Regions from separate parts of the Homo sapiens genome. Here all the other regions are linked to region 1. The links come from fine-mapping of genetic effects on gene expression. A gene starts in region 1. Each other region holds a variant in brackets. All regions are shown on one strand. Distances are between the middles of the regions.

Region 1 (10,069 bases):
CTAAATTTCCACATGGGAGTTTAGGAAAGGAACACTGGGATACATAACTGCTAGACCCACGGTAATCGTTTCACAGGAGAAGCAGTTTTCAAGGGCTCTTTCTTAAGAAAACTAGGATCTAGATATAAAGAGAGTTTAAGCAGAGAGGAGAGTAGAGTGGGAGCTGCTCCATGCCCTCCCCACCCCCGATAGTCACATGTCCCCCCACCCCAGCAGGGAGTAGAGCTCAGTATGAATGAGCAGATACTGAAGAGACCGCTGAAAAACTGTGTACACCGAGCAGAAGGCAGAGCCCAGAAGGACGCAGAGCCTGAAGCTGCAGGGGAGCAAAGGCCCCTGACCCACCACTGCTATGGGCAGCAGCTGTGAGTGGGATTTGGAGTGAGTAAAAAGGAGAGAAAAGAAAAGCGTGAAAGGGAGAGAAGAGGACCTGGCTGGGGAAATCCCCGGTTTGTAGAAACCTGGGCTTGGGTAAAGGTTTGTTGGGGACGGTGGGAGGGGCTGGTGGGAGGCAGAGGTGTAGTCTGCCCCGGATTCTCCATGTCTCAGGCCCACTGGCTGTGTGCGACCTGCATCACACCTCCTGTTCCTGGGGACCTTGGGTGTTTATCTGGGCTCAAGAAGCACTGTCAGGTCTAAGGAATGACTGTACGTCCCAACAGTATCTCACCTCTGAGTGCTGTCTGGCCCAAAGTATCCGAGGATTCTCCCGATAGAAATGTATTTGAAAATTCAACTGAGCCAGGCAATTACTTTGAAAAAGCCTTTACCTTGCTGAGGATTCACAACAGATTTTCATGAAAAATGCTGTACTCTCTGTACCTTTTCTGTAGGATATCAATAGATGCCACACTCACACATACACAGACACAGCAAATATATTTGGAAGAATTCAACAAGTTTCTTTACTGCAATATGTCTTGAAGGCATTAATATCATATGTCATCAAATCTAAGATACACCCTCAATTGGAAGATGTGTCATTATTTAACATATTACTAAGAAAAAAAAAACATCCAAGATGGAAAGTCTCACAGGAGATGCCTCTCTAAAGATGGAACAATGAAAGGCTCACAGGAGATGCCTCTCTAAAGATGGAACAATGAAAGGCTCTACTGTTGGCTGGGCCTGGTGGCTCACGCCTGTAATCTCAGCACTTTGGGAGGCTGAGGCAGGTGGATCACCTGAGGTCAGGAGTTCGAGACCAGCCTGGCTATCATGGTGAAACCCCATCTCTACTAAAAATACAAAAATTAGCCAGGCATGGTGGCTTGCACCTGTAATCCCAGCTACTCGGGAGGTTGAGACAAGAGAATCACTTGAACCCGGACGCCAGAGGTTGCAGTGAGCCGAGATTGCACCATTGCACTCCAGCCTGGGTGACAAGAGTGAAACTCCATCTCAGGAAAGAAGAAGAAAAAGAAAAAGAAAGAGAAAAGAAGGGAAGGGAAGGGAAGGGAAAGGAGAAAGAGAAAGAAAGAAAGAGAAAGAAAGGAGGGAAGGAAGAGAGAGAAGGAGGAGGAGGAGAGGAGAGAGAGGGGAGGGGAGGGAAAATAAAGACTCTACTGTCAGTACAGGGGAAAATGAGAAATAAACCCACCATGGAGAGGAACAGCAAGGAATCATCAGGTTTCTATCTTGGCCCTGGCGAGGGGAGGGAGAAATAGGGAGATGCCCTGCACTGATCATTAGAACCATAAGCTGGTTCTCACACTGGGGTCACACCATTCAGCAGATCCCCAAGGAGTTTCAGGAGCTGTGTCCCCAGATCACTGGCAGAAGCAAAAACAAACCCTCTCTGGAAGAACTCAATTTCAGTCCAGGCCAGTGATGATTGCAAAACACCAACTGTGAGATGTTTCTTGATTTGGGGATGTTAAGATGTGAGAAAATGTGCACCCAGGCATAGATGAGGACAGTGAGCCCTTATCCAGAGAAGGTCAGAGTATTCAGCCCTAACTACTCTATCCCACTGGAGAGCGCCTGGTCAGCAGTGGTCACTGTTGCCACTATTTATGGAGTGCTGACTTCATGCCAGGCTCTGGGTGCCAGGCTCTGCTCACATCAGCTCCTGTCATCCTCATAGCCCCTCTGTATGGGGACAGCAGCGTTACTATTATTTTCAGTAGGGCAAACTGAAGCAACTTTACTGAGGCTGCACATGAGTAAATGACAAAGCTGGGCTTTGAGTCCACGCTCATCTCCGGTATCCTGAAGGTGGTGTCCATCAGCTATTTTTCAAGGGATGCTAGTCTGGCCTGCTGAACCTAGCATATTGCCAAAAATGTAATTGTTCAATAAAGTGTCTATTCCCTACACAGAGGCAATTTCTGCATCAAAGTATGTCTTATCACATCCTAGAAGGCTGTGCAAAGGCTCTTGCTGTCCTGTGGTCTTGGCTGCGTGGGTATTCCCGGACTCTGGCCGGATAATCCCATGCTTGCTGTAAAGGGATCAGTGGTGGGCATGAGAACACATCATTCAATGTCTTCTCCTCTTTTCTGATTTTAGAAGATGTCAGTATAAATATCACAAAACTTCCGAAATATGACCAGGCTCCAATCACCTTTCTGGTCCATGTCCTGTCCCTCCTGAGGCTCGAAGACCTCAATCTAGGAAAGCAGCACCCCCTCCCTCCCCACAGAGCTGTGTGGACCTCGGGGGCCATGTGGAGAGCCAGAGCCTGAGTAATAAATCCCCTCCCTGCAGGACGACTAGCCAAGTTTTATTACAGATCCTATCACAATGAAAAGGGCTGGTACTCCCGTGACTGAGCTAATCCCGTCACCGTGTGAATCAATAGGAAACCCACAGGAGGCGATTCGATTCAGGATGTTCATTTTGGGAAGCTGGTCTTCCTACAACATCGGAGTCAAGATATTGCCGGGCACTTCCATGACAAATGGAAAGTTCAGCCCAAAAGGACCAGACTTGTTAGTAAAATACATTCAGATCTCTCCAAATAAAAATTCAGATGCATTTTAGTCTCCCCTCAGTACAGCAGGCTGAATCCCTTAATCTACCACATTATTATGGAAACACCCTTATCTCTGCCTGTCAAAATCACTGCCGTTGCGGGGGCTCCGTCTTGGGAGGCACCAGCTGCTTTATAATCATTTAGCTGATGTGCAGTTACATTATCTTGAAGCAGGCCACATATTTGAAGAACGGCACCAGATCCAGGATGAATCTGAGGGACATCCGGCCAGCAGGGGAAGGGGAAGAGAGGTAACACATGCTGCCCAGACATACTGCTGCTAGGTGACAATGCAATGCCTCCAACCCCGTCCCCTTGACTCAGGCCAATGTCCCTCTTCTGCAAGCCAGTTGGCTAGGCAGCCAGGGCCATGTCAGGCAGAGGCAGACTGAGAGTTCTGGGTACTGTTTCTGTCCAACAAGTATGGCCGGTTCTCCTCTAGGGCTGCCAGTTTGCATGAGGGCCTCATGTCTCTCCACTGGCAGGGGCTGGTGAGCATCCAGTCCATCTGTAGGAGGGACACACGGTGGCTGTCTTCTGCAGTGTGGGCAGGCCTGGAGTGACGGCCCAAGCAGCTGACCCCACTTGCCAGGGGAACGCAGGGAGGTGAAGTTACATCTAGTGTAGCAAAGCGAAGGCCATGTGGGACGTTGATCTCCAGGTTCCAAGATGGGCCCTTGGCAGGAGCCCTTGTGAACATGGATGTGGCCTGTTGGGATGGGGCCTCCCACCACGCCTCCTGTTCTCCCACCTCCATTAGGGGTGACTCACACCTGAAGAAATGATGAATCACGTGGGTTACAAAACCAAAGGGCTCCTGAGAGCGAGGCTGGAAAGGACCTCGGAAACCATCTATGCAGATCCTGTCCTCAGCCCATCCCCTCTCGCCCCAGCCTCTCACCTCCAGCTGCCAAGCCACAGACTCCAAGTGAATCCTGCACGCTCAACAAGAGACCGCTCCTGGAACTGACCATCAGAGAAGCAGCTTCCTTCCCACCTCAAGGCCTTCTCGACCTTTTTGTTTTACTTCCTATATTAAGCAGGTTGATGGCTTGCTTTCTGGAAGTGGGCCAGTAGGACCAATGGGTCCTGGGAGGGATGACAGAAGAGATCCAGCAGCGATCCTTACCCTTCATAATTCCTTGATTATGGTGTGAACATTTCCATCCATCTCCAGGGTGCTTCAAATCATTATCCACTGGATACCAGGCTGCTCCAGGAAGCAGGGGTGAGGATGATTCAGCTGACTTTCTACTGCTGGTCCCAGCTCAGTGGGTGCTTTTAAGAGTGTACATCGTCTAGTGAACACCTACCACACGGCAGGCCCTGGGCTCATAAAAACGAACGTTTACGGACAGCTTATTGTACAGCAAAAGCTGACCTCATCCTCAAATCAGCCCGACGGGGTAGATGCCACTGTTCCCCGCATTTTGCAGGTGGGGCGCCTGCCCTCAGCCACCACAGTCATTTGCCCAAGATCGCAGCGAGGCTAAGCGGACGGCCTGGGGGTTCACCTGCACGGCCTGGGGGTTCACCTGCGCGGCCTGGGGGTTCACCTGCACGGCCTGGGGGTTCACCTGCGCGGCCTGGGGGTTCACCTGCGCGGCCTGGGGGTTCACCTGCACGGCCTGCCTCCCAGCATGGGCCGCGGCCTCCGCCATGGGCTCCGTGCGGTGGTTTCTCGGGTACACGCTCGTGAGCCCGGCTGATGCGCCACATGCCTTTGCCCCGCTCAATGTGTCCCTTCAGCCAGGCTTGGTCCCGGGCGACCCACTGTCTTCCCCGCAGCTTCTTCTCCCTGGGACCCCGCACACGGGCGAGCCCTCCGTCTAGGGAGGCGGGCGAGGCCGCCAGGCGTCTGAGGCCCCCGCCAGGTGAGTGCGGCCTTCGGGTGTCCGGCCGGTCTAGGGAACCGGGGACTCACCTGAGACGCCGGGGCCTCCCCGCTCCCAGCAGAACTCGCGGGCCGAGGACGCCTCTGGGGCGGCACCGCGTCCCGAGAGCCCCAGAAGTCGGCGGGGAAGTTCCCCCGGTGGGGGGCGTTTCGGGCCTCCCGGACGGCTCTCGGCCCCGGAGCCCGGTCGCAGGAGCGCGGGCCCGGGGGCGGGAACGCGCCGCGGCCGCCTCCTCCTCCCCGGCTCCCGCCCGCGGCGGTGTTGGCGGCGGCGGTGGCGGCGGCGGCGGCGCTTCCCCGGCGCGGAGCGGCTTTAAAAGGCGGCACTCCACCCCCCGGCGCACTCGCAGCTCGGGCGCCGCGCGAGCCTGTCGCCGCTATGCCTCCGCGCGCGCCGCCTGCGCCCGGGCCCCGGCCGCCGCCCCGGGCCGCCGCCGCCACCGACACCGCCGCGGGCGCGGGGGGCGCGGGGGGCGCGGGGGGCGCCGGCGGGCCCGGGTTCCGGCCGCTCGCGCCGCGTCCCTGGCGCTGGCTGCTGCTGCTGGCGCTGCCTGCCGCCTGCTCCGCGCCCCCGCCGCGCCCCGTCTACACCAACCACTGGGCGGTGCAAGTGCTGGGCGGCCCGGCCGAGGCGGACCGCGTGGCGGCGGCGCACGGGTACCTCAACTTGGGCCAGGTGAGTGCGGCCGGCCCCGCGCGCCCAAAACTTTCCCGGCGGCCTCCGGCGCGCGCGAGGGGGGCGCCTCCGCAGTCCTGTCCGCCCGGCCCCGGCCCCGCGCGCGCGTGGGAAGGCTCCGGGACCGCTTGGGGACGGCGGGCGGCCGGGGCGCCCTGCGGGGGGGGGTGTCGCCCGGGGGGGCGCGCGCGGGACACTCGGCGGGGTGGGGGGGACTGGGGTCCCGCGTGGGCGCCCACGCAGGTCCGGCGCGCCGACCGCAAGTCCCCCGGCAGTGCCGCCCAACCCCGCGCTCGGAAGTGTGGCCTCAGAAGCCGGGGCGGCGCGGACACCTGCCGGGCTCCGGGGGAGTCTGGGCTGCCTCAGGCGTCGCGCGCCGTCCGCCGCTGGGTCCTGGGCGCCCACCCGGCTCTCCCCCGCGGGGGAGCGGCCCCTCTGCCCTCGACGGGCGGCGCGAGCTCCGGACCCGGTGCGCGCGCCAAGGCGGCCGCGGCCGCTGCTTGGGTGACATGAGCGTGGCCCGGCGTCTCGGGGACTCGCGCTCCCTCGGTGTCCGCGGCTCCCGGGGGTAGATGGCCGGGAGCCTGCACCCTGGAGCCCGGCCGCCGTCGGAGAGGCCTTGGGACAGCGCAGGGCCGGGGGTCCTGGGTTTAAAACCTCTCCAGGAGCGGAGGGAGGGCGCTTTGTGTGGGGGCTTCTGCCGCGGTTCTGATGGCCGAGCGGTGTGACCTTTGGCAAGTCGCTCCCCTGACAAGCTCCTTTGCAGTCAGTGGCAATGTCTACACCGCTGGGTTGTCGGAAAGATCTAATGCTGCGTTGCCACAGAGCCTGGACCGGGGCCTGACCCTCACCGGCCCCCACGGGGCCCTCCCAGCCCCGCAGCCCTCGGCTGTCCCCTCTTCTGTCAGTGAGCAAGCAGGCCACGCCCTGGGCACAAAGGCGGCATTACCCTCAAAGGACCTCCCGGCGGGTCCCTTTTTCCTCTCTCAACCAGCTACCGGGCTGAGGGGCGGTGAGTTGGGGTTGATCCATGTTTATGGCTCCTGGAGAGGCCGTTATTTTGAGGTCACACCAGGGGACCTCTCAGTGCAGTTAACAAATCTACAAACTACACACTCAGAGGGTTAAGTGAAGTGACAGGGAAGCACCGACTCATAACTCTAAACCTTAGTGCCAGGCAGTGTTAAATGTAGTTTCATCGTTATCCGTGGCAGAAGCCAGCAAGGTGTGGTGGCGTCCCTGATTGATAGAAATGACATTAGTTCTGCATCCCAAGCCCCACGTTGATGTACTATTAGGTGTGTGGCTGGAGGGGTGGATTCCACCATTCGAATGAAGGAATCTTCACAAGGCAGGTTCGAGTTTACTGAAAGAATGCTAGCACATCTTTGGAGACCTTTTAAATATATGCATATATATATATAAAATGTTACATATATACACATATACACACATACATATACGCACATGTATATCCATATAGATATTTAGTTTTTTTAACCACTCAAGGCCCTCCAAACATCCTGTGATTTCAGATTTTGCCGTCGGGTAGCACTGACTTCGTTTGTCTCTGTAGTTCTTGACTCTCCCTGGCTGATTGTCCAGGCTGAAGAAGGTGTTCCTCATGTTTGCGTAGTGCCCCTGGCTCCTGCCACACTTCGCTGCTGTGCCCAGGTGGCCCAGCAATTTGTCTTCAGCTAAAAGTGACTCTTAAACTACGCGATAAATTACAAAGTGCCTGGGTTTTGGGATTCTAAAATTAAATGAGCAGAATGGAGCTGAAATTGAGCTGTGAGCTCACACTGCAAGAGAGAGGCAGAGAGGCACAGGTAACTCTCCCCGGAAATTTCTATCTGTGGGAATAAAAATGCCTAACCCTTGGCCATGCCGCCCCTTTGAGACAACCTCTGTCAGGCTCACTGAGTTCTTAGTGCAGTCTGCTCTCCTGGTTTTGCGGATGGGAGAGAAGATTCGCCCCGATGCACACTCCGTACCCAGGATATTCTGGGGAGTTAATCGGGGTCTCCCCAGCTCTGTCTAGTGCAGCCAGCATGAATGCCACGCAGCCCGGTCACTCAGGCATGGTGCTGGCAGTGGCACTGCGGTGACATTCACTAACAGAGATTAGCTGGTTGGGGATAGGAGCTGTCTCAGAGGCTTGTGTGTGATTACTCACGGAGGGCCTATTACTCTTTATTCCAAAACGAGCTTTTCTTTCCCCCCTCTAAGTGCACTGCTAATGTGGAAAAGGCCTGGAGCATTTGAGCCTCTACCCACTCAATAAGAACTCTTTGAAAACCTTATTTGCCTTTTTTTCAGCCAGGAGAATTTGTGACTCATAAATAAGATGTAGATATTATTAGCTTTGACTTACAGATGAGTAAATGGGGGTGAAGTAAGGGAAGGAAGCTGTTTGTGTTCACATGGTACGCATATGTCACCTCTGACAGTTCCATCCCTGCTCATTTGCTTCTGCCGTATTCTCTGTTCTGAGGTCTCCTTTGTGAAACTCTTTCTCCAAGCCCTTAATGGGCAATTAGTGTTATGTTCTGTACTTGCCTGAATCGCAGCCCTGGTTTTCTCCCAGATAGTCGCTGTGCTCAAGGTTCTTGCTTGTTTTACTTTCTTCCATACAACTAATAACTGGATTCAGTTTATTTCACATGGCCCAGAGGTAATTTAGACTGGTGGTTATTCACCTTTCTTGTGTCATGGCTCCCTTTCAGCACCTGATAAAGGCTGTGGATCCTCTCCATTGTAAAATATGCATCACCAGGGACAAGACAAGACAGCCTCTCTTTGTCCCTCTACTCATCAGTCCAGGTAACACCACAGGATTTCAAAGGGAATAAAAATGTGGAAGTGTCCAATGTCATTATCGGCAGATGACATAACTACATGGATAATCCAAAAGAGCCTGGAGATTAACCCCTGGAGCTAATAAGGGAGTTGATCAGCAACAGCCACCTGCATGGCAGCACATCTGAGAAGACGAAAGAAACCATTCTTCATTCTTGCATAAAAGCTGTTAGATACGTTGAAATAGGTCTTTTAAAAAGGTGAGACTTTTATAGAGAAACATAAAATATTTAGAAGAAGGACTGAGAAAAGAAAGTTTAGGCTGGGCATGGTGGCTCATCCCAGCACTTTGGGAGGCTGAGGCAGGCGGATCACCTGAGGTCAGGAGTTCGAGACCAGCCAGACCAACATGGAGAAACCCTGTCTCTACTAAAAATACAAAAATTAGCTGGGCTTGGTGACACATGCCGGTAATCCCAGCTACTTGGGAGGTTGAGGCAGGAAAATAGCTTGAACCTGGGAGGCGGAGGTTGCAGTGAACCGAGACCGCACCATTGCACTCCAGCCTGGGCGACAAGAGTGAAACTCCGTCTCAAAAAAAAAAAAAAAAAAAAAAATTTAAATAAATGGAGAGATGCGTTGTGTTCATGCATGGGAGGGCTGGCTCTCATAGTTGCCCCAATTTAATCTGCAAATTCAATGTAATCTAGTTTAAGCTGTGACAAGATTTAATGTGGAATATGAAATCACACAAATGAATTATAAAATTCATATGGAAGAGTAAGGTCCAGGAATACCTCAGACAACTCTGGGAAAGAAGAGGAGGAGGGGAGTTGTGGTAACGACAGTCCAGCAGTAGAGTCAACTCAAACCCAAGCATGTGTGGGAACTTGTATGTGTGAGCTGAAGAGTTACAAATAGATGGGGAAGGATGGGCTATTTACTAAATGGTGCTGGGAGAACAGGCTCTCCCCATGGAAAAACAATTAGATCCTCACATTACACAACAGTACATTCCAGATGGGATTAAAGACTGTATATAAAACTTTAGAAAGAGCTGCAGTGGAATACCTTTGTCACACCGGGAAAGGAGTCCCTACACAAGTTATGAAAATAAATTTCAAAATGAAGAGACTGATACATTAAGATAAAAATTCTATGTAAACAAAGGCATCCTAACAGAGTTAAAAAGCAAGAATAGACCAGGAAAGTATTTACAATATATAACAAATACATTAGTACACAGATTATTTTGAAAACTATAAATCACTAAGAAAAAAAGATACACGCCAGGTAGAAAAATGGGGAAGTTTATGAATGGAGAAGTCAATGAAGAGAAATCCAAATGACCAGTAAACATAAGAAATGATGCCCAGCTTCACTCAAGTTCGCTGGGGGTTATTGGAGCACTGCAATTTAGGCAACGATGAGATACCATTTCACACCTATTGGATTTCCCGACACGGAAGAGTGTTAGCATCACGTGCTGGCAAGGATATAGAGCAATGGGAACTTTCAGATGCTGCTGGTGGAGATTGGTATCGTTTGGAGAGCAATTTGGCGATACACGGTGAGGCTGGACTTGCTAGTCCACAGCCAGACATATCCTGGAAGAACTCTCCCACGTGTGCACAAAGAGACTTGTATAAGAATGTCCATGCAGGCGTTTTTTTAAATGAAGGAAAACCCACCTTCCCTGAAGTAGAATAGAGAACTAAATCAA
Region 2 (10,069 bases), 40 kb after region 1:
GTTCCCTTTAAGGGAAACCACACAATAGAGAGGGGCCAAGGATGGGAAGCGCTTTCCGGAGCTAAGAGCTGTTAATAATAACAGCTGGGCAGCACTGCCGTGCTTGGCTGTGCCTTGGGGTCGGCTATGCCTTCTCCCTCTCAGGCCTCCAGATGCTGCTGGTACACTGGAGCCATAGTCCCAGCATCCTGAGTGACACAAGAGAGGTGGGAAAGGTGGGGACAGAATGCAGAGGAGAGTTTTTTGTTTGTTTGTTTGTTTGCTGTGGTCAAATACACATAATAGAAAATATATCATCTTACCTGTTTGTAAGTGTATAGTTTGGGGCATTTAGTATTTTCACGTTGTTATGCAACCATCACCACTGTCCATCTCCAGAACTTTTTTATTTTCTCAGACTGAAACTCTGTACCCTTTTATTTATTTATTTATTCATTCATTCATTCATTCATTCATTCATTCATTTTTTGAGATGGAGTCTCACTCTGTTGCCCAGGCTGGACTGCAGTGGTGTGATCTTGGCTCACTGCAACCTCCGCCTCCTGGGTTCAAGCGATTCTCCTGCCTCAGCCTCCCAAATAGCTGGGATTACAGGTGCACGCCACCATACCCGGCTAATTTTTGTATTTTTGGTAGAGGCGGGGTTTCACGCTGTTGGCCAGGCTGGTCTCTAACTCCTGACCTCATGTGATCTGTCCACCTGCCTCGGCCTCCCAAAGTGCTGGAATTACAGGCAGAAGCCACTGTGCCTGGCCTGAAACTCTGTACCCTTTACACACCAACTCCCCACTCCTCCCTCCCCCACAGCCCCTGGCAACCACATTCTGTCTCTATGAATTTGGCCATTCCAGGTACCGCATACAGGGAGAATCGTTCAGTATTCGTCCTTAGTGCCTGGCTCATTTCACTGAGCACAGCGTCCTCCAGGCTCATCTGTGTTGTAGCATGCATCAGAGTTTCCTCCCTTTTTCAGGCTGAGCCATATTCCATCGTGTGTCCCTGCCAGGTTTTGTCGATCCACTCAACCAGCCACAGACACCTGGGTTGCTCCCACCCCTTGGCTTTTGTGGAAAATGCTGCTGTGAACACGGGTATGCAGATATTTGTTCAGAACCCCGTTTTCACATCTTCGGGTACAGGAGGTATATATTTTTAAGTGAAAATTTGAAGATTAATTTTTCTAGAATTCCTTTTGATTTCCCTTGGGATAACTTGCTCTCAAGTGATGGTGTTTTAGGTATTAAAATGTGAATTTCCAACATGTCTTTCATAAAGACAAAATCTTATTTTTAAAAACCTTGTAGCCTCCTCCAACATGACCTCCCTTGGCCAAGTAGCCATGAGCTGCAGCCCAGCACTGACCCTTCTTTCTGGGGAGTCCAGGAGGGGGCCTGGCAGGAGCCAGACGGGCTCCCCCTGACTGCCTTGGGTGCTCAGTGTAGTTTGTTCTCTGATCCATGATGTAAGCAGCGTGCCCAGGTGTGCTGTGCACAGCCTTTGGTGCTCAAGGTCACAGACACAGTCCACTCTTCACGAGCAGAGCTGCCCTATGCTGAGAGTAGACCTGGACTCGTACCGGAGCCTCTCTCCCCTGGCAAATTCTCTAGATGAGACTTTCTTGAGGATAAGGCACCCCCTACTTCTCGCATACTCAGAAAGAAAAAAGTAAACAGTGGGCCTCCTCAAGTTGGGAAAGTCTCAACCAAATGTCTCGATCCCCACTTTCCAGGCGACAGGCTGCCTGTAGCCTGCAGGCATGTGTTAGGCAGGCTACACAGTGGTGGTAACATGTACAATGAGTTGCCATTATTAAAAACTCGGGAGAGCGCATGTCGGATCCAAATGCTGGCTTCTCTGGAAGAGTTCAGGAGATCTCGCAGTTCTGGGTTCCTGGAGCCTCCGCAGGCTCACCTCCTCCCTGACATGGGGTCCCAGGCTGGGCCCTGTGGGCATCGGGGGTACCTCACCCAACTAGAGAGGCCAAACATGGCACAGGGAAGTTAGCGAGCAGCAGGGAGATGTGGCTCAAATCCATTCCCACTAACACATCAGCTGCACAGGGGCAGCCTGCGGGGAGCAGGGGCGTGTGCTCTGCCTGGGGGTGAGGTATGGGCCCTGGGCACATGGGGCAGGGCCAGGCCTCAAGCAGCCTCCCTACCCCAGAGGTCACCTGCCCTTGAAATACACCTCATTTTCTGTCTCTTTTACAAAATAATTCCTGGATCCCACGGGCCCTCCTTTGATGGGAGGAAGGAATGGGGCAGCTCTGAGAAGCAGTCTGTCGCCGCTTCTCAGCATGGGGTTAGAGAAAGAGTTTTGTCTTCAGTTTAGACCATACATTCTTTAAGCTTTATTTGGGAAAGGGGCTAAAAGGTCTGGTTACCTTGTTTTATTACAATTAAAAATTTCTTTTACAATTTTTTGAAACAATCACAAACTTACAGAAAAATTGAATGCACAGGGCAAAGCTCAACTGACCCAGCGCAGAGAACCTGGTGACCCCGGCCCCGCCAGCCCCAGTGCTCCAGTGTGTCCTTTGCATAAACAAGGACTGTGTCTGCAGAGCCGTGCAGCACAGCCATGGACACCGGGGAATTCCACCGGTCTTTATCAGTTGTAAGGGCCCCTAATGTAGTAACATGTTCCATCTGTGCTCTGTGGGTAACCAATCTGCCATGTCCTGTGTCTTCACTTTCCCTGAGTGGGCAGCCTGGTTATCTGCCTGGACTGACATCTGGAGTAGCCTGTTCCCACCCGTAGCCCCACGGGCTCGATTCCACGTTCCCCCATGTGAGCGCCCTCCTCACCTTCTGAGTTGCAGCAGTGCCTTGTTCTGGGCCACCCCGGATCTTCCCACCCCACACACACCATGTTCTTCCCCATATGATGACTTTAGACTGGAATTTTTCAGGAAAAAGAAGAGTTTTACAGCTTATCTTAAAATTAAAACAAAACAAAACAAAAATGAATACTCAAGAGGCATTGGATTTAGGAATCCGGTAAAACAACTAATTCCAGACAGCCGTAAAGAAACCTGCAACCAGGAAATGATTTAAAATGGAGATCTTCAAAGTCAGGATTGTAGTTTTTTCAGGTAGCTTTTTGTAGACCTTGAAAATATAGGCCGAGACCACATGTAGAAATTAAACGTTCTCATCCGAAGCCGGACCATTTGGTTTGGCGACTTAAGGGAAGAGAAAAATGAAGTTTGCTAAGTAAGAATTAATGATTTCTCAGGAATTTTTAGGATGTTGAACAGCTTAATTGCATAGTTTGGGTGGATATGTGTTGAAGAAAGTAATTTTAGGAGACTGGGAAATTGTGCAATCATCTTAACTTGGGTCAGGATTGTAATTATTGCAATAACAGAATGTTGCTATGTGTATATGTGACTGAAATGGGAAGCAGTTTTTAAAAAATGCTTTAAGAAATAACAACAAAATGTCCATTCTCTCTCTCTCTTTCTGGACTTCCTTAATTATAAATACCAGGTAATCCAGTGCTGGCTAAATATAGGTCCAGTGGTCATCTATATTTATAACGTTTTTTTCAGGCGGAAGTCACTAGAGCAATACAGAATTAATTTGGTGTGTAGGTTTTTATAGAGTCTAATTAGTTGTGTTTTTCTTAAGCAAACCAACCGGGATCAATAACATTATATAACTGAACTCGGACGACCATGACTTTTAGACATAGACTCTTCCCAGAAAGCCAAGGCCCTCGGCAGATGCCGGCCCTGAAGACAGACAAGCGGCTCCGGAAGCAGGCACGCTGCAGCTGCGGAGCGGACGGGGTTTGGAACATCTGTTTCCAGCCAAGGGCAGGCTTTGGGAGTGATAAAGTACAGTTTTTTTTTGCAAAGTCAGAAGCCTCATCTGCAGTCCATTCATCACTGAGGCCTTGAATTGAGACATTCTGTGGCTGCTTATCAGCTGTTCCCGTGTGGAAGGGTTTGGCTGGGCTGGCCTGGGGAGGTGGGGTGGGGATTTTGCAGACTTACCAAAGTATGCGCTTAGCCGACCCACCCCCACCAACAACGCAGCCTGCTCGAGGGCTACGAACTGCACCTGTGTCTGCAGTCACGTCCATTGGAGAGCTGAGTGGGCGGGTGGACCTTTGGAACTATTTGATGTCATTTGGGGTAGATTCGGCGTGCTTCTCGGTGACTTTGCTGCAAATTAAACATGTAAAGTAGATTGGGCTTTCCTCCTCCATTCCTCAGGATCTTCAAAAAACATTTAGTCTTTTCTGGCAGAGTGAACCCGAGCTGGCAGCGCCCACTGAGATTTTGTTTGAAGCCAGCTACA[T/C]TCACATTTAAAGAAACGACATGATGGGGGAGGCCCTTTCTGTAAACCCCAAGCCAGGCCTTTCCCCTCGTGAGGGTTCCTACCCCTCCCTTGTGTGGCCCTGCAAGCCGCTTCTGCTTGTCCACACCTGCGCCCGAGAGTTCTTCTCATGGCTGGTGCGTGCCATGAATGAAGGGCACTGGCCAGTGGAAGGGAGTGCCCGGCCAGGCCTTGCCTGCCTCAAGTCCTCAGACCAGAGAGGCCAGTGGGGGTCTTGCCCAGACCATACAGCCGGGAGGTGGTCTGCCTGGCTCCATAGCCTCCTCCCGACCTCACAGCTGTCCTGGGACGGGGACTGAGAGAGAGCTCAAAGACAGGACAGCAGAGCCCGGGCCAGAAGGCACTGGGGGCATGCTCACCCCACCTCTGGATGCGGGGCCTCACTGGACAGCTGGACACAGATGGGATGGGGGGAGACCTGTGTATCCTCCCAATGTCATTTGGAGACAGAAGTCTGTTCATTTCATCAGGCAGATTTCAAGCTCCTCTGTGTTCCAGACACAGCCAGGCCCTGAGAATTGACAGACAACATAGCTCCTGCCCTTGAAGGCTTATGGTGGAGGGAGGGAGGACAAAGGGTGTCATAGCCATGTCTGGGCATACAGGGCCTGGGAGGCCTGAGAGGGCTTCCTGGAGTCAGTGACAGCCGAGGGGATGGTTAAAAGCAGAGTAGGAGTTGAGGGGACTTGAGCGAGCACAGGGGTGTGAAACGGTGTGTGAGGGCAGGGCCCCTTACACTGGATGACAGAGGGCAGTGTGGGCAGGGCCAGGCCTGTGGCTGGAGAGGGGTCCTGGCTGGTCGTGTATTCTCCGAGACAAGGAGGAGTCAGGGTGGGAGTGTCAGTGCGGTGGTACGGGAGAGACTAAGAGGCCAGCGAGGGTCCAAGCAGAGGGGTGGGGCTGCCTGCACTAGGGCTGGTGCGATGAGGGGAGCGGGTTTGGGAGCCATTAAGAGCCCCCTTTGGGAAGGTTTGGTGGTGGCTTTTACCAAGACAAGGAACGCCTCAGGAGGAGAGGTTTGGGGTGCAGGATGGCGAGGGTGCAGTGTTGTTGATGCTGCTCTGGCGTGGTGGAAGTTATGTGCTGACCTAGGGGTCCTGCCAGGAGCCAGTGGATAAAGATGGTGCAGATCCGGCCCAGCCCCTGGAGGACTCAGCCATTATGGGGCCACGTGCTTGGGACCCCCTTAGGCGGGAGAGGCTCCCCAGAGGAGATGATGCTGAGCTGAGCCTGGAAGGACCCAGGATTGGTTGGCAGGAAATGAAGAAACAGCCTTCTGGGCCTGTCTTCTCGGTATCTCATGCAGTTCCTGGATACAGCTCAGCTTCTCCCGCAGAGGATTTCAGAACCCACCTCCCCAGTGGCTGTTCAGACCTCTGGAACCAGAACGTCCATCTGGGGCCAAGCCCCCACCCACATGGGGTTGCTCAAGCTACTCAGGTGAAGCTGACATGTACGAAGGTGGCGAGCCATAGATCTGGAGTTCTGAGTTAGGGCAACCCAGCAGTGGCCCCAGGAGGCTCACTCGGATGTGAGAACTGTGGGAAAACCAAGGACCTACCTGGTATGTTTCAGAGTCATTTGTTTATGAACCTTACATAAACACACACACCTGGATATGTATATACACGTGTATATGCACAGATACACACACACGCCTGAATACATATGCAGTTGGCTGTCTTTATCCACGGGTTCCACATCTACACATTCAACCAACCTCAGGTCAAAAACATGAAAAAAAAATGTATGGTGGATGTAGAAACTATTTTCTTGTCATTTTTCCTTAAACAATATGGTATAACAACTATTTCCACAGCATTTACATTGTATTAGGTATTATAAGTAGTCTAAAGATGATTTAAAGTATTGGAGGATGTGTGTAGGTTGTATGCAAATATGATGCCATTTTATATCAGGGACTTGAGCATCTGTGGATTTTGGCATCTGCAGGGTGGCCTGGAACCAGCCCCCCACGGATGCCAAGGCATGACTGTATACATATATATACATCTGTATACAAACACTTGCACATCCATATACATATGCACACACACACACCGGCATACGTATATACACGTGTATACAACACTCACACATTCTATACATCCACACATATGCACACACACTCGTATACAGACATAATGGAATAATATGTACCTGAAACATAATATAGGCCTCCCATGATTTCCTTATTGAAATGAAGGAAAGTGCACACATGCTGAGGGTACTGGTTCTCTGGGAAAGAACCTGCCGCAAAGGACAAGGACCAAGGTGCCTGAAATTCCCCATGGTAACTAACAATCTTAACCATGCCGAGAGGCAGAAGGTTCAACGGTGAAGAATCCTGACTGTTCATTGACTAAATGAATCTTGAACAGTTTCACTGCTCTGTGCCTCAGTTTCCCCATCAGTCAGATGAGGATGGTCATAACATCTACTCCCTACAGTTGTTATGAAAATGAAGCTTATTAATTCATCTGAACTCCAAGCTTGCTGCCTGGAATGGGGCATGTGCCCAGCAAGCGTCAGCTGTTGTAATGAGCCAGGGGCACTCGGTAATAGTGAGGATCCCTGGCTGGGGGACAGGTGAAGGAGGGGGAATTGCTGTTCCCCACTAACTCTGTACCCTTTTGTACCTTCCATGTTTTGTATCATGTGCACATATTACCTATATTTTTTTAAATGTCAGAGCATCTTGTTAAAGAGGATTACACTACATTAAACTCTCTTCACTGTGAGTTCTTTGATCTCATTCCTTCCAGTGTTCTGGTCAAGAACATTTAGCAAGGTTTGTAATGATGTTCTAATGATGTTATCAGTTTGATCAAGTAATGCATATAATCGCCTATCAACGTTGAGTAAAGAAACATGAGCACCCTGTATTCAGCAAATTGTTTATTTTCTTGAATGGTGCATGAGACGGGCTCTAATTAATTCATTGTGAAGATACCACGGGCACCAAAGAGAACAAGAACGTATTTAAATTTCATGTTATGACATTACAAAGACAATGCCTTGTGGACTAGCAGTCAGATTCATTGATGAAGAGCAGATGGAGGTCAGGGGAGGACACGGGGCTGAGCAGGACTGGGACGCAGCCTGGGATGGTGGAGGCAGCGCCTCCCTTCTATAATCGAGGGAAGGAGGAGGAGGCTGCCAGGGCCCTCCGATAGCGGCAGTCCGTGGAAGCCACCGCTCCTGATTCTAAAGGCGGGCTGCTCAGGCACCGGCTGGAGAAGCGGTGCGTAGTCGATGAGCTGTGAGCACGGGAGCAGAGCCAGCGCCTGGTGTGGACACCGTCCGAGGCCACAGCCAAGCAGCAGCCACCCAGGACGTCCAGGCTGCTGAGCAGGGAGGAACACCTGCCATCAGGGCAAATGCCACATAAAAAAAGAACCTCACTTTACCTGGAAGATTATTTGGAATTTTGTCTTTAGGCCGCCCCCTTCCTGAGTCCACCGCTGTCCATTTGACCCTGAAGAGGTCCTAAAAGTGTGGCAGTCATCTTAAACCCTACTCGTGTATCTGTATGTCATTTAGTATCAAATTTTGTCACCTGCTTGTCTGTGAGCAGAATGGGGAGGCTGCTGGTTTAGGAACTGGGAGCCCCACAGTGTGACATAGTCTTAACCTCCCTGGGCCTCAGTATACTCATCTGTGAAATGGGGACATCTCTGTGGGTCCTTGTCACACCCTAATCTGTGAGTCAGGGCCAGAGGGCAGCCAGGTGTCCTTCATGTTCAACCAGGCCAGTGGCCACATCCCCACAGGTGACCCTGCGTGAGCCTGGGGGCCTCACAGCCTGGCATCCTGTCCCCCTTCCCCATGAAGGCACCCAGAGATGTGAAGGAACAGCCTCCCTCACTGGGGAGGGGCAGAACCTCCTCGTACCTGGGGTGGACCCTGCTGTGGTAGGTCAGATGAGAAGCCTAGAAGGGCTTAGGTGGGTGGGGAGGACGAGAGACAGCAATGGCTGTATCATAAACGCAGCATCATCCGGGCCGACGAGACTTTCAATGGGCCTGTGTTCCTGGGCAGCTGCTCCTGCCTCCTGCTGTGTCACCTTTGATTCTCTCACTGGTTTTGCCCGTGATGAAAACCTCACACTCCTGACCTGGTGCCTGATGTTGCAAAGGGAGGGCAGAGGGCAGGACCACATGAGTCAGACAGAAGGACGGGGCCTCTTGGAGCATCTGACAAGGTTTATGGAAAAAGCACGTCTCAGAGACTCAATGAGATGCTGAAGGTCTAGGCTTGCAGCCGCACCTGTGTTTGAGTCACTCCGTGTATGGACCGCCACTTCCCAGCCCTAGAGAACCCTTGCTTGACATCAGAGACTTTGGTGAACTCCCCTGATACTCTCAGCAGCAAATGCTGTACATCACAGGCTGGCAGCCTTTTCTGTTTCAGAGTTCACATATGAACTCTTTGATCCTCGTGGGCTCTAGGGTCTCTGTTGCAACCACTCAGCTCTGCTATTGTAGTAGGAAGGCAGCCATGAACAGTAGGGAAAGGGTGGGTGTGGCTATGTTCCAAGAAAATTTATCAAAAAACGGTAGGTGGATATATACCCAAAAGAATTGAAAGCAGGGACACGAGCAGATATTTGTACACAGCAGCATTATTCCCAGCAGCCAAGCAGTGGGAGTAATCCACGTGTCCATAAATAGATGAATGAATAAACAAAATGTGAGATGTGCAGATAACGGAAGATTAGTCAGCCTTAAAAAGGAAGGAAATTCTGACACATGGTCCAACACTGATGAAACATGAGCACATTATGCTGAATGACATAAGCCAGTCACAGAGGACGAATGTGTGATTCCAGCTTCTTCTGCAGCTGGCTTTGCAAGGGCAGCCTTGGCTGGTGTCCCCTTCTCCCCTGCAGTGGGAGCGTCCCTCCCCGGCCCCCCAGCTCTCATGCTAGGCCGGACATAAGTGTCCAAACAGATGGAGTTCTGGCCGCTGCTGCCTCCAGAGGTGGTTGGCCTGGTCAGCATTCTGGGGACTGTCTGTGCCTTTCCTGGATCGTTCGTGGAGAACAGTTGACATCAGCCCAGACCCAGGGGCCTTTGCAAAGGACAGTCATGGCGGCCCCGGGGCAGGGGGCTGGATGGCTTTGGGACTGGCCTTTGAGGGGAAAGGTGGCTTCCCCAAGCCTGGCTTAGCTGGTCAAAGGCCAGGTGCTGCCCTGAATGGCTTCCAGGCCCCCCTGTCATGAGCCTGCTAAGGGTCAGCACTGCTGCAATTAGTCTCTTTGCCAGCAAGTTTTATTCAACTCTTCGTTCCTCCATGTCCCTGACTGGGAATTGACTCGAATGCCCAGAGTTAAAAGACCAAAAGTTACGTAACGTCTCCCAGGGATGATGGCAGCTTATGAGCAAACATGTTGATTAAACACTGCGGCAAGTTGAGACTCGGTGATTGCCTCCGTAGCTAAATAACAGCTCTAGTGCGGGTGAGGAGGAGCCTTTTGACACGTGTGGCAGTTAACTTTGTTGAAGAAGTGAGCAAGGTGACTTATCTGTAGGAAGAAAAATAAAAGTGCTTGTGAGCAAAATAGGGCAGAAATAATGAGGTTTATGATGGCAGAAAAATGTGAGAATCAGAATTGCGGAAAACCGTGTATCGAGCACTTACTACCTGCCTGCTGGGTCTCTGCTAGCTCTTTCACACGTAAATATCGCGTTCAAATTTCGGAGCAACCCTTCAGGGTGGTG
Region 3 (10,069 bases), 38 kb before region 1:
AAGAGGGGAAGTCAGGTGCAGAGGACCCCCGGGACGCCAGGTCCCCATTAGAAGCAACGGCCCAGATGTGCACAGAGGCAGGAAACTACTATGAGGTTCTGGTGCTGAGTGAACATAGAAACCCATCGAGGCCAAGAGTGAAATAGTCCTTATGTAGGTCAAGAGTACCAAACAGTACTGAGTGACAAGGAATAAGTGGATAAGCAAAACGTGGTCTACGCAGGCAAGGGAAGATGACTCAGCCTCGAAAAGGAAGGAGATTCTGACAGGTGCTACAACAGGGACAGACCTTGAGGACCTTATGCTGAGTGAAATAAGCCAGGCACAAAAGGACAAATACTCTGTGATTCCACGTATGTGAGGTGCCTGGAGTTGTCAAAATTATTGGGACAGAAAGTAGAATGGTGGGGGCCGGGCACGGTGGCTCACCCCTGTAATCCCAGCACTTCGGGAGGCCAAGGCCGGGGGATCACCTGAGGTCAGGAGTTCGAGACCAGCCTGACCAACATGGTGAAACCCCGTCTCTACTAAAAAGAATACAAAAATTAGCTGGGCCTGGGGGTGGGTGCCTGTAATCCCAGCTACTTGGGAGGCTGAGGCAGGAGAATTGCTTGAAGCTAGGAGGTGGAGGTTGCAGTGAGCTGAGACCGCACCATTGCACTCCAGCCTGGGCAACAAGAGCGAAACTCCGTCTCAAAAAAAAGGAAAGAAAGAAAGAGAAAGGAAGGAAGGAAGGGAAGGGAAGGGAAGGGAAGGGAAGGAAGGAAGGAAGGAAGGGAGGAAGGGAGGGAGGGCGAAAGAAAAAGAAAGAAAGAAAGAGAAAGAGAAAGAAAGAAGGAAAGAAAAAGAAAGGAAGGAAGATGGCTTTCAGGGGTTGAGCAGAGGTGGGATGAGGAGTTAGTGTTTAATGGCAACAAAGTTTCAGACTGAGAAGATGAAAAAGCTCTGAAGGTGGATAGCAGTGACGGTTGTACAACAGTGTGAATATACTTAATGCCACTGAACTGTACATATGAAAATATTTAAAATGGTAAATTTTATGTTACATATATTTTACCACAATAAAAATAAAATTAAAAAGGTTCAATCTAGTAAAGAAATAATTTTAGAAACCAAAATAGAATAGTGTGTCTTATACTGGGACACAAGCAAATAAAAGGACACACATTAAAATACTAGAACGCTGAGGGGGGAACGGGCACAAAAGAAAATTAAACTGGCGAAGGGGCCACGGGTCGCAGCATGTGGCAGGCAGTGCTCTCTGCCCACAGCCAGAATGCGGGATCAGGAGTGAGCAGCAAGCAGTGGGGTGACAGATGATCTCAGGGTAGCCCCCCAAGGCTGCAGGAGAGTCACCACCCCACAGCCTAGCCGGTGCCCCAGCACGCCCAACAGCCCTTCCAAACCCCCGGCTCCCAAGAATGCCCTGACAGCCGTCTGGGCTTCCCCTTCCCCTGTGTGGCCTCGTGGAGTAGAGTCCAAATCCCAGCTGCCCTGGACACGCGTCCCAGGCTGGCTGGCCCGTGGCCCATCGACACTGGGCTCATGCACACGGTAGGTGCTCTGAGAGGTTCTGTTGAGTGAGAATAAGTGACGGGAATTGAGAATGGGGAGACCTCTCCTAGCCGGGAGAAATGACACAATGCCGCTTTAGGGAAGCCCAGTGGATGATCCTTCAGATCCCCGGGGGGATAAACCTCACTTCCGATCTCAGGAGCATAGAAGTGGCCCTTTCTCTATTTTCAGTAACTGAACTCAGTTTTAATTTTAAGCGTCAATACCATCAGGTAACAAGGATTTAATCTCCACCTGGGCAGGGGCTCAGGCTTGCAGGCCAACCGGACCCTCTCTAAGCCGCCTTCTTCTCTGACCAATTCTCTGTGGCACGAGGCTCAGCCGGGGACACAGTGGCCCTGCAGTAACTGCGAGTATGCCTAGTCACCTGGCCAAGCATGAGGACCACTGCCGCAGGGAGCAGAGCAGGCCCTGCTGTGGCCTTCAGGACAGGAAAGGTGGAAAAGCCGTTTGTATACTGTGGCTAAACCCTGAGTGCGCGATACCCCTTCCAGGCTTGTAATCCACATTCCAGCCCACGGTGATTGACAGCTGGCACACAGCAGCACCCAGGGCGCCACCCGCCCTCCATGAGTGTGCTGCTGGTTTAATTGATGTGTGCAATTTTGGGGACCACTGAGTCCATCAGAATGCCAAGGAGGAAGGGGGTGGGAGGGACGGCAGGGCAGGGTGTGCCTTGCATGGGCAAAGAGGTCAGAAGTGAGCATTACATCAAGCAGGCCCGCGGCAGCTTTGAAGAGCACCGTCAGGGCAGGAGACAGTCCTCAAGCAGCAGCACAGGGCAGACCCTGACTGTGCGCACCAGGCTTCCCGCCTGCAAAGCACTTCTGGTTAATCATCAGAAAGGGAATATTGTAAAAGGGTATCAAGTGGCTCACAGACAACTCCCTGCTGAGTCACTGTGGGGAAGGGTCAGGAACCTGGAGGTGCCAAGTGGCCACAGCTATAGCCCCAAGACATGTGGCTAGGACACTGCTGGTGCTGAGCATGCACTAGCCACTGCTCTTCGCACCCAGGACACTGGGGCACTGCTCTGCCACCTGGGAATGGGGGGACGGACCCTGAAGTCTCCGTGCCTCCTGGGCATGTGGCTGCACAGCCCTGCTACCCCCCACCGGTGTCAGGGAGTGCACGTTCTTGGCCTTTTAGGCTTCTGTAGAGGGAAGCAGGGTTTTGCCTCCCACTAAGACGGTTCACTTCTCAAATGTTAAAAGGCTGTCCTGATGCTGCATAACCACAAAATAAAAAGCATCCAGAAGGCCAGGCGTGGTGGCTCACGCCCGTAATCCCAGCACTTCGGGAGGCCGAGGCGGGTGGATCACTTGAGGTCAGGAGTTCGTGACCAGCCTCGCCAACATAGTGAAACCCCATCTCCACTAAACATACAAAAATTAACCAGGCGTGGTGGCTAATGCCTGTAATCCCAGCTACTTGGGAGGCTGAAGCGGGAGACTCACTTGAACCTGGGAGGCAGGGGTTGCAGTGAGCCGAGATCACGCCACTGCACTCCAGCCTGGGTGGCAGAGCAAGACTCCATCTCAAAAAAAGCATCCACAAGAATGACCAAGTGACTGCTCAATGGCCATGGATGTTTCTGGACCCTGAGGGCCCCTGTTTTGCTGAGATGGAAATCATTGCTGACTCCTTTAATGTTGTTTAATTTTTTAAAAACCTCTTCAAGCATTCCTCTAGATTTCTGGTATTCAGAACTATGCTGTGAACACAGAAAGATTAAGGACTGTTCTTCTAATGCCTTAGACAGCCTGTGCCAATTGGTCTCAGAGTAGAGAAAAATATATTTATGCTGTGAAACCTAAATACCCAAACTAAATTCATTTTAGCAAAGATTAATACGCAGAGCCCCAATTCTTGTACAGATTCCTCAGAGCAGCACGTGCTGTTCGGCGCTTCTTCCTTTATAATAAATGGTCAGGTGTGCAAACAACTGTTTGAAGAGCCATTAGGAGTCAGTCAGCTGTGGTGTGGGCAGAGTGGGCAGTGGTATGCCAGGAAGCGCCCAGGGTTGCAGGTCTAGGGCATTGTGGAGACAGCAGCAGCATTCCTTGGTCCTGAGCTGGGATTCCGCATCCAGTTGGGCCCAAGCGTGATCTGTGTGTAGTTCCATGAGGCCTGGGTGGAGGGTGTTGGGAGTGATAGAATGTTTGGAAGGAAGTACAGGGGAGTGAGGCCTGATTCACCCAGGCTATGGGGCTGTGTGAAAATGGCCAGGCTCTTGAATGTTTGGCACATAGAGGAGAAAACTGTCATGAACAAGACTCATAGCCCCTGAAAATAGGCAGCTTGTCTTCTCTGCAAGACGGCCTGGCTGGTGTCCCTGCAAGCCCAAGTGTGAGCTGGGGGATTCGCAGGCAGGCTGGTGACACTTTCCATCAGTGGGAACCCCTCTACTTTCGAGCACCTGCCCCCGACTTCATGCAGGGAGTGCACGAGGAGTCTGCCTGGGACTGTGGATGGGCCTGAAGGACAGCCCAGCCTGGGACTGTGGGACGCAGCTGTCCAGCGAGGTGCTGGCTGGCCGGCCAGCAGCCACCACCCAGGCCCAGCTGCAGGGCTGGGTTTCCTGCAAACCGTGATTCTGGAGCAGGGTAGGTGACCCCGAACTGCCTGTTTACAGTTTTCATGCACCCTGGGGACACCGTGAGCCTCCCCAGCCCTGTGGCCTTGAGCTGCTGTATTCTAGAAATACCGGCAGCTGCCTGTCCCCTGAAGCCTCCCCACAGCTTTGAGCAATGATGAATATTGGTTAATCTCTCCTGTAAACAGCTGTTTTCCCGGCAACTGCCCAGCTCGTGTTAAATATTAACAAAGAGCCGCCTCCACAGCCGCTCACAGGGTGTCTGCTTTAAATATTTAAGAAATTGCTGTTCCTGTCCCTGAGTGACTCTTTGGCTCAAACTGTTCTGTAAGTGTTCTTGCCTCCCTGGTGACTGCGTTGTGTGAAATGTCCGACATCCCTGCTTGCTTGCTCTTTCTTCACCCATTGCTCTCTTTGTCTCTGTCCTTCCCTGTCTCTATCACTGTCTCTCTGTCTCTCTCTCTCTTAGTGAATAGTACTAAAAAATGTAAACGCTGAGGGTTGCACTCAGTCCTGGGTGCTCAGCCAAGCTGCCTGGAGATGCCCCAGGCAGGCTCCTGCTCCATCGAGATGCTGCGGAAAGCAAGTGGCCTTTAAGTGTTGCTGCCTCACACGCTCATGGTTAGGTGTGAATAGCTGGGGCACCCCACCCCTCGCCCCCATCTGGGGGTGTGTCTGCACACGTGTACTCAGGTGCCCAGAGGGTTGTGGAAATGCCGTGACCGTGTGTAAATCCTTTACATCTAAGTCCTTCTCACTGTTGGCACTTCCCATTCCCTTCAGGGTTTGTGGAAGACACGCCTGTTTTCTTCCCTGGGCTAACTGTGAAGCTCAGAAGAGGAAGAAGGGCCCGGATGGCAGATGAACCGCACAGGGCTGTGTGGCCTCAGCCCCGCAGCTGGGGAGCTCAGTGGCCTCCTGGAGGAGAAGCTGACTTTGGAGGACCTGGAACACCATGGCTGCTGGGAGTTGGGGCTGTGCGGGAGGCTTCTGTCTCTGTGTGGC[G/A]TTTGGTCATAACCACTGGACTTTGGAACATCCTGCTTAAAACCACAACTTTGGCTGGGCACGGTGGCTCATGCCTGTAATCCCAGCACTTTGTGAGGCTGAGGTGGGCGGATCGCTTGTGCTCAGGAGTTCAAGGCCAGCCTGGGCAACATGGCAAAACCCTGTCTCTACTAAAAATACAAAAATTAGCTGGGCATGGTGGCTCACACCTTGGGTGGCTGAGGCAGGAGAATCACTTGAATCCAGGAGTTGGAGTCTGCAGTGAGCCAAGATCACTCAACTGCACTCCAGCCTGGGCGACAGACTGAGACCCTGTCTCAAAGAAACAAAACAAAACAAAACAACAGCAAAAACCCCCACAACTTTACCTAGACTCATCTGTGAAAACTTCAGTGAATCCGGCCTCAAACTGTCGCTATGGGGGAGCCACTGGCAGCTGAGTTTGTTTAGATTCCTCCTTCCTGGGTGAGACCTGGGGTTGGAAACACCATTGAAATTCCCTCTAGTAATGGGCTCTGTCGTCCAGAGGAAGGGGCAAGACTCCCCCACCCCCACTTCTCACCCCTTGCCCGGGGTCTCTTCTCCCTTCCTGACCAGGAGCCTAAGGAAGGCCTCAGGTAGAAATAGAGAAGCATCTTCCTCCCTCTGGGGCCAGAGATTTCCAGCCGAGTTTTGTGAGACTCCAAGACTGCTGTGCGTATCCTCAGAGCTGCTGAGATCACCTCAAAACAAAGCCCGTTTAAAGTCACTTTCATTTATTTCAAGAGCTACTGTGAACCTCTCAGGATAAAATGAAAATGAACTTCAATTCACTTTAATTTTTAAAAGATATGTTCGTTTAATATCCTTTTTAAAATAAAAACAGGGAAAAAGACGTAGTGGTTTCAAGTTTGCAATTCCCATCCGGCCCAGGTGAGGCCACAGGGCCACCTCCCGTGAGAAGAGCGTGGCCTCAGGAGGGCAGGTGGCACAGTGCATGAGCCTGCGGCGAGTCTCGGGCTCTGCCTAGGGTCGGGGGAGGGGCTCTCTGCATCTCACTCTCCCCAGTTCTAAACGGAGAAAGTAGTAGTACCTGCCTTAGGGTGTTGGTAGAGAACTGACTTAGATCTTGCCGGTAAAACTCAGGGCCTGCAGGCGTGACCTTACAGCAGGTGGGCTACAGGCACAGTCCTGGCTACAAGCCGGGCAGCTGTCTTGTCCCAGGAGACCAGGAAAGCCTCCAAGACACCATGGGCCTATTGGTAGGGGACAAGTGGGCTTCCCTGCCAGGTGGCCTGGTGACAGGGTCATTAGCAGTTGAAAATTTTGAGAAAATGATTCTGTGAGCTGGAGGGCAATTGGACGGGTGAGGATGGAGGAGAAAGCCAAAATCCGCAACTCGGATCACTGTCAGGGCGAGGCTGGGAGTGGGGGAGCGGGGGATCCCTCCCCAGAGGAGCACAGGCTGCAAGCTGGTGGCCTGGAGGCCTGGGGGAGAGGAGCGCAGCCAGGGCAGGACTGTTGCTGGAAGTCTGTGGAGGAAGCTGCCTTGTCAGTCAGCCTCCCGACCCCAGGCACACAGCGATTACAACCTCATGCCAAAAAACAAAAACAAAAACAAAAACAATGCTCTTTTGAAAAGAAATTGAACAAACTACCAGACTGGGCCCCATCCTTAAACCTCATTTAATTTTTTTTTTTTTTTTTTTTTTTGAGACGGAGTCTCACTCTGTCACCCAGGCTGCAGTGCAGTGGCGTGATCTTGGCTCACTGCAACCTCGGCCTCCTGGATTCAAGCGATTCTCCTGCCTTAGCCTCCCGAGTAGCTGGGATTACAAGCATGTGCCAGCATGACTGGCTAATTTTAGTATTTTTAGTAGAAACGGGGTTTCGCCATGTTGGCCAGGCTGGTCTCAGACCCCTGACCTCAGGTGATCCTTCTGCCTCGGCCTCATAAAGTGCTAGGATTACAGGCATGAGCCACCACATCCAGCCTCATTTAACTTTAATTACCTTTAAGGGCCTTGTCTCCAAATACAGTTGCATTGGGGGGCAGGGCTTTGACATAAAAATCTGGAAGGACGCAAACATTCATTCCATAGCACTCAGAGAGCAGCAGCTACAGGAGGTCACTGACCCCCTATAGAACTGGAGAATGAAATGGAAAGTGAAGCTACGAGAGCTCATGAGCACGATTGCCCCTCATCCAGAAACCAGGAGTTACCCTCTGGCCGCTGCTACGGAGCCTAAACATCAACAGCTCCGCCACTATTGTGACACCCACCACCAATCTGCAGATTGCAGTCACTCTCAGCTGCCAGCTGCTCCCGGAGCTGGAGAAGGGGACATGCTTTCTCCCATGATCCAGCCTTCCAGCCTCCAGTGCCTCTCATTGGCCGGAAACTTGCATCAGGAGAAGCTGGGAATATAGTTCATAGGCTTCCAGCCCTGGCAGTTACAAATGGGAGTATGGAGTGACAAGTTAGAAGCTATGTCCACAGATAAATAAACAGCACAGATTGCAAGACAGAGAAGCGCAATCAAGAGGCAGTTATTCTTCGTCCATGAGAAAAATGAAAGGTAAATCAAACATGGGGGGGATATCAAAAAGTTGTCTGTGAAAGCCACAGTCTAATCATGAAAAAACTAAAAATATGTTATGGTTTTCTGTTTTGAGACGGAGTCTCGCTCTGTCACCCAGGCTGGAGTGCAGTGGCATGATCTTGGCTCACTGCAACCTCCACCTCCCAGGTTCAAGCAATTCTCCTGCCTCAGCCTCCTGAGTAGCTGGAACTACAGGCACCTGCCACCACGCCCGGCTAATTTTTTGTGTTTTTAGTAGAGACGGGGTTTCACCGTGTTAGCCAGGATGGTCTCCATCTTCTGACCTCATGATCCGCCCGCCTCGGCCTCCCAAAGTGCTGGGATTACAGGCGTGAGCCACCGCGCCCGGCCACGTTATGGTTTTGAGCAAGAAGAAAGTTTATGAGAGACAGAATGCATTCAGCCTTGACGCTGAAGTCATTCTCTCCTGTGGCCCCGGGAAAGCCACCAACCACAGAGAAGGAAGCCACTTGGCTGCTATGAATGGTACTTACAAAGTTGTAAAAACGCGAATGCCGTTGACTTGTTTTCAACACAGATAAAACTTAACAAAGAACAGAAAACTTAATTATGCTCATCAAACAGAATATGATGCCATCCTTGGTGCTGCAAAAGAAAAACCCACGGGATGGAGGAAGAGAAGGGGAAGAGGGGAGGGGAGACGGAGGACAGGACAGGGCTTCAGAGGCCTCCACGGTGTGCTGAAGATTCAGCAGTCTCAGCTGGATGGAAAAGCAGTAAATGCCCAAGTCTATATTGACAGGTGCGAATCTAACGAATGTGAAAACTAACAATCGTGACTGAGAGGAGGTGGGGGAGGGTAAATGAGGGAAATTCTCATTTTTTAATAGTGCAGAATCAGTAGATACTGTTGAAGGATGACAAATGAAGAGGTGACGGAATAAGCATATTGACTAAAGTTATGATGGTGGATAGATTGATTTTTTTTTCTTTTGAGACGGAATCTCGTTCTCTGTTGCGCACAGTGGAGCTCTTAGAGGTGTTGACAGAGTCTAATCGCATCCCTTTGACCTGCGAAGCTCTGAGGAGGGAGGGTTCCAACAGCCACCTGTGACCAGAGTCCCTGTCTCAGCACCCTGCAGGGCAGGTGACCTTATGGCCAATGAGACACAGGGAACATTGGCTGTTCCCTCCCTGATGAGCAGGGAGGAGCAGTTTGAGGCCATGATGCACAGAACGAGGTGGCTGTGTTGTGACTGCCAGGGAGGGAGGAGCCACCAGCAGCTGATGGGACAGAGGAGAAGGATAAAGGAGAGGCTCTGGTGACAGTACTGGGCACTGTGCATGGCGGGGGACTGCCTGCCTCCCAAGTTCTTGTTGTGTTGACAGAGATGACAAAATGTCATCATTGTTTCAGCCGCAGCTCACTGGGTGCTTGGCAGCCCACTCCCCCAGCGGGCCCAGGAGCCTGGCGGTACCGTGGCTCCTCCTAGTGCAGGCGCTCGGCTCAGTCTTCCTCATGGAAAGGCTCCAGCGGGCCCCGGTCTCACAGGGTGGCCCAGCTGGCTGTCAGGCTTGCTCCTGGGGACACCTCAGGCAAGACAGGAGAGGTGCTCTGTGCCCTCAAGCTTTCATTCATGCACTGGTTCTGTCGGCGAATGTGTTGACACGTGCCACACCAAAGCTGTGTGGTGTGGACCTCATTACCTGTCATCTTTCTAACTTGACTGCAAACTTCATGTGGGGAGGACAGTGGCCTGTGTGACCCAGATCCTCAGTGGCCAGCCCTGGGAACGGCTCATCATCTAGGGGAGGAAACAGACTCTCATCAGATCCAAGCCCAGCTCCTAGGGGTGGTGATGCTGCTATCTAAGCAGGACCCTCTCACACACCCCCACCCCACCCAGCTGCATGGCTGAGCCCTGTGGCTGGTGGCACTTCACACACATCATTCTATGGCTGCCACTGGTATTTAGTGTCCCCTCGTCCTGCCTGGCCCCTCCAACAGGGTCTCCTTTCTTCCAGGGCCCTGACATCTCGTGGAGACACTGCCTCCCACATCTCTCCATGTGAGCAGTTTCCCCAGCCCTGCCTTGCTCCTCTCTCTGCTCTGCTGCAGTGCCTTCTCCTAATACCACGGGAATGCTGAAAGAGGTCTCTGGGGAAGCAGCGCCTTGTCACCTGCAGGCCCAGCAGCCGCAACTCAAACACACTGGCACAAAGTTGCACTTCATTTACTCCACTTGATTTCTGGGATTCCAATTCCAGTCCGGGAAGACGTGTAAACAAGGATGTTCAGATGGTGGTTGCCCTGGAGGGTGGGCGTGGGGGCAGGTGTTGATGGCAGTG

Which allele goes with the higher level. Positions count from the first base shown, and alleles are read on the strand shown. Sizes are in standard deviations (SD) of each study's normalised expression.
With allele T in place of C in region 2, the expression in atrial appendage of the gene that starts at base 5,214 in region 1 is lower (small effect, 0.36 SD a copy in GTEx).
For the expression in pancreatic islets of the gene that starts at base 5,214 in region 1, A is the low allele of the variant in region 3 and G is the other (moderate effect, 0.63 SD a copy in PISA).

What was found. PIP is the estimated chance that this variant, and not a neighbour inherited with it, causes the effect.
Region 2: its variant is the best candidate, but not a certain one, in a credible set for the expression of PCSK6 in atrial appendage (GTEx, PIP 0.84).
Region 3: its variant is the best candidate, but not a certain one, in a credible set for the expression of PCSK6 in pancreatic islets (PISA, PIP 0.68).

Annotation. Positions count from the first base shown.
Region 1 is chr15:101,484,852-101,494,920 of GRCh38, reverse strand. It overlaps PCSK6 (proprotein convertase subtilisin/kexin type 6), which reads left to right and starts at 5,214. Exons shown (of 22, transcript NM_002570.5): 1 at 5,214-5,547. The coding sequence starts at 5,251. It overlaps LOC124903566, which reads left to right and starts at 5,768. Exons shown (of 2, transcript XM_047433427.1): 1 at 5,768-10,069. It overlaps LOC107987228 (a long non-coding RNA gene), which reads right to left and starts at 5,154. Exons shown (of 2, transcript XR_001751730.2): 1 at 4,597-5,154; 2 at 882-4,533.
Region 2 is chr15:101,445,345-101,455,413 of GRCh38, reverse strand. The region is part of intron 1 of PCSK6 (proprotein convertase subtilisin/kexin type 6); the gene reads left to right. Among named protein-coding and RNA genes, the nearest start is that of PCSK6, 39 kb to the left of the region's middle. RefSeq lists enhancers at 2,356-2,650, 3,667-4,400. The variant T/C (reference allele first, on the strand shown) is at 4,308.
Region 3 is chr15:101,522,746-101,532,814 of GRCh38, reverse strand. LOC124903567 (a long non-coding RNA gene) reads left to right here and starts at 4,441. Exons shown (of 2, transcript XR_007064784.1): 1 at 4,441-4,498; 2 at 4,955-6,050. RefSeq lists an enhancer at 1,838-2,496. The variant G/A (reference allele first, on the strand shown) is at 5,177.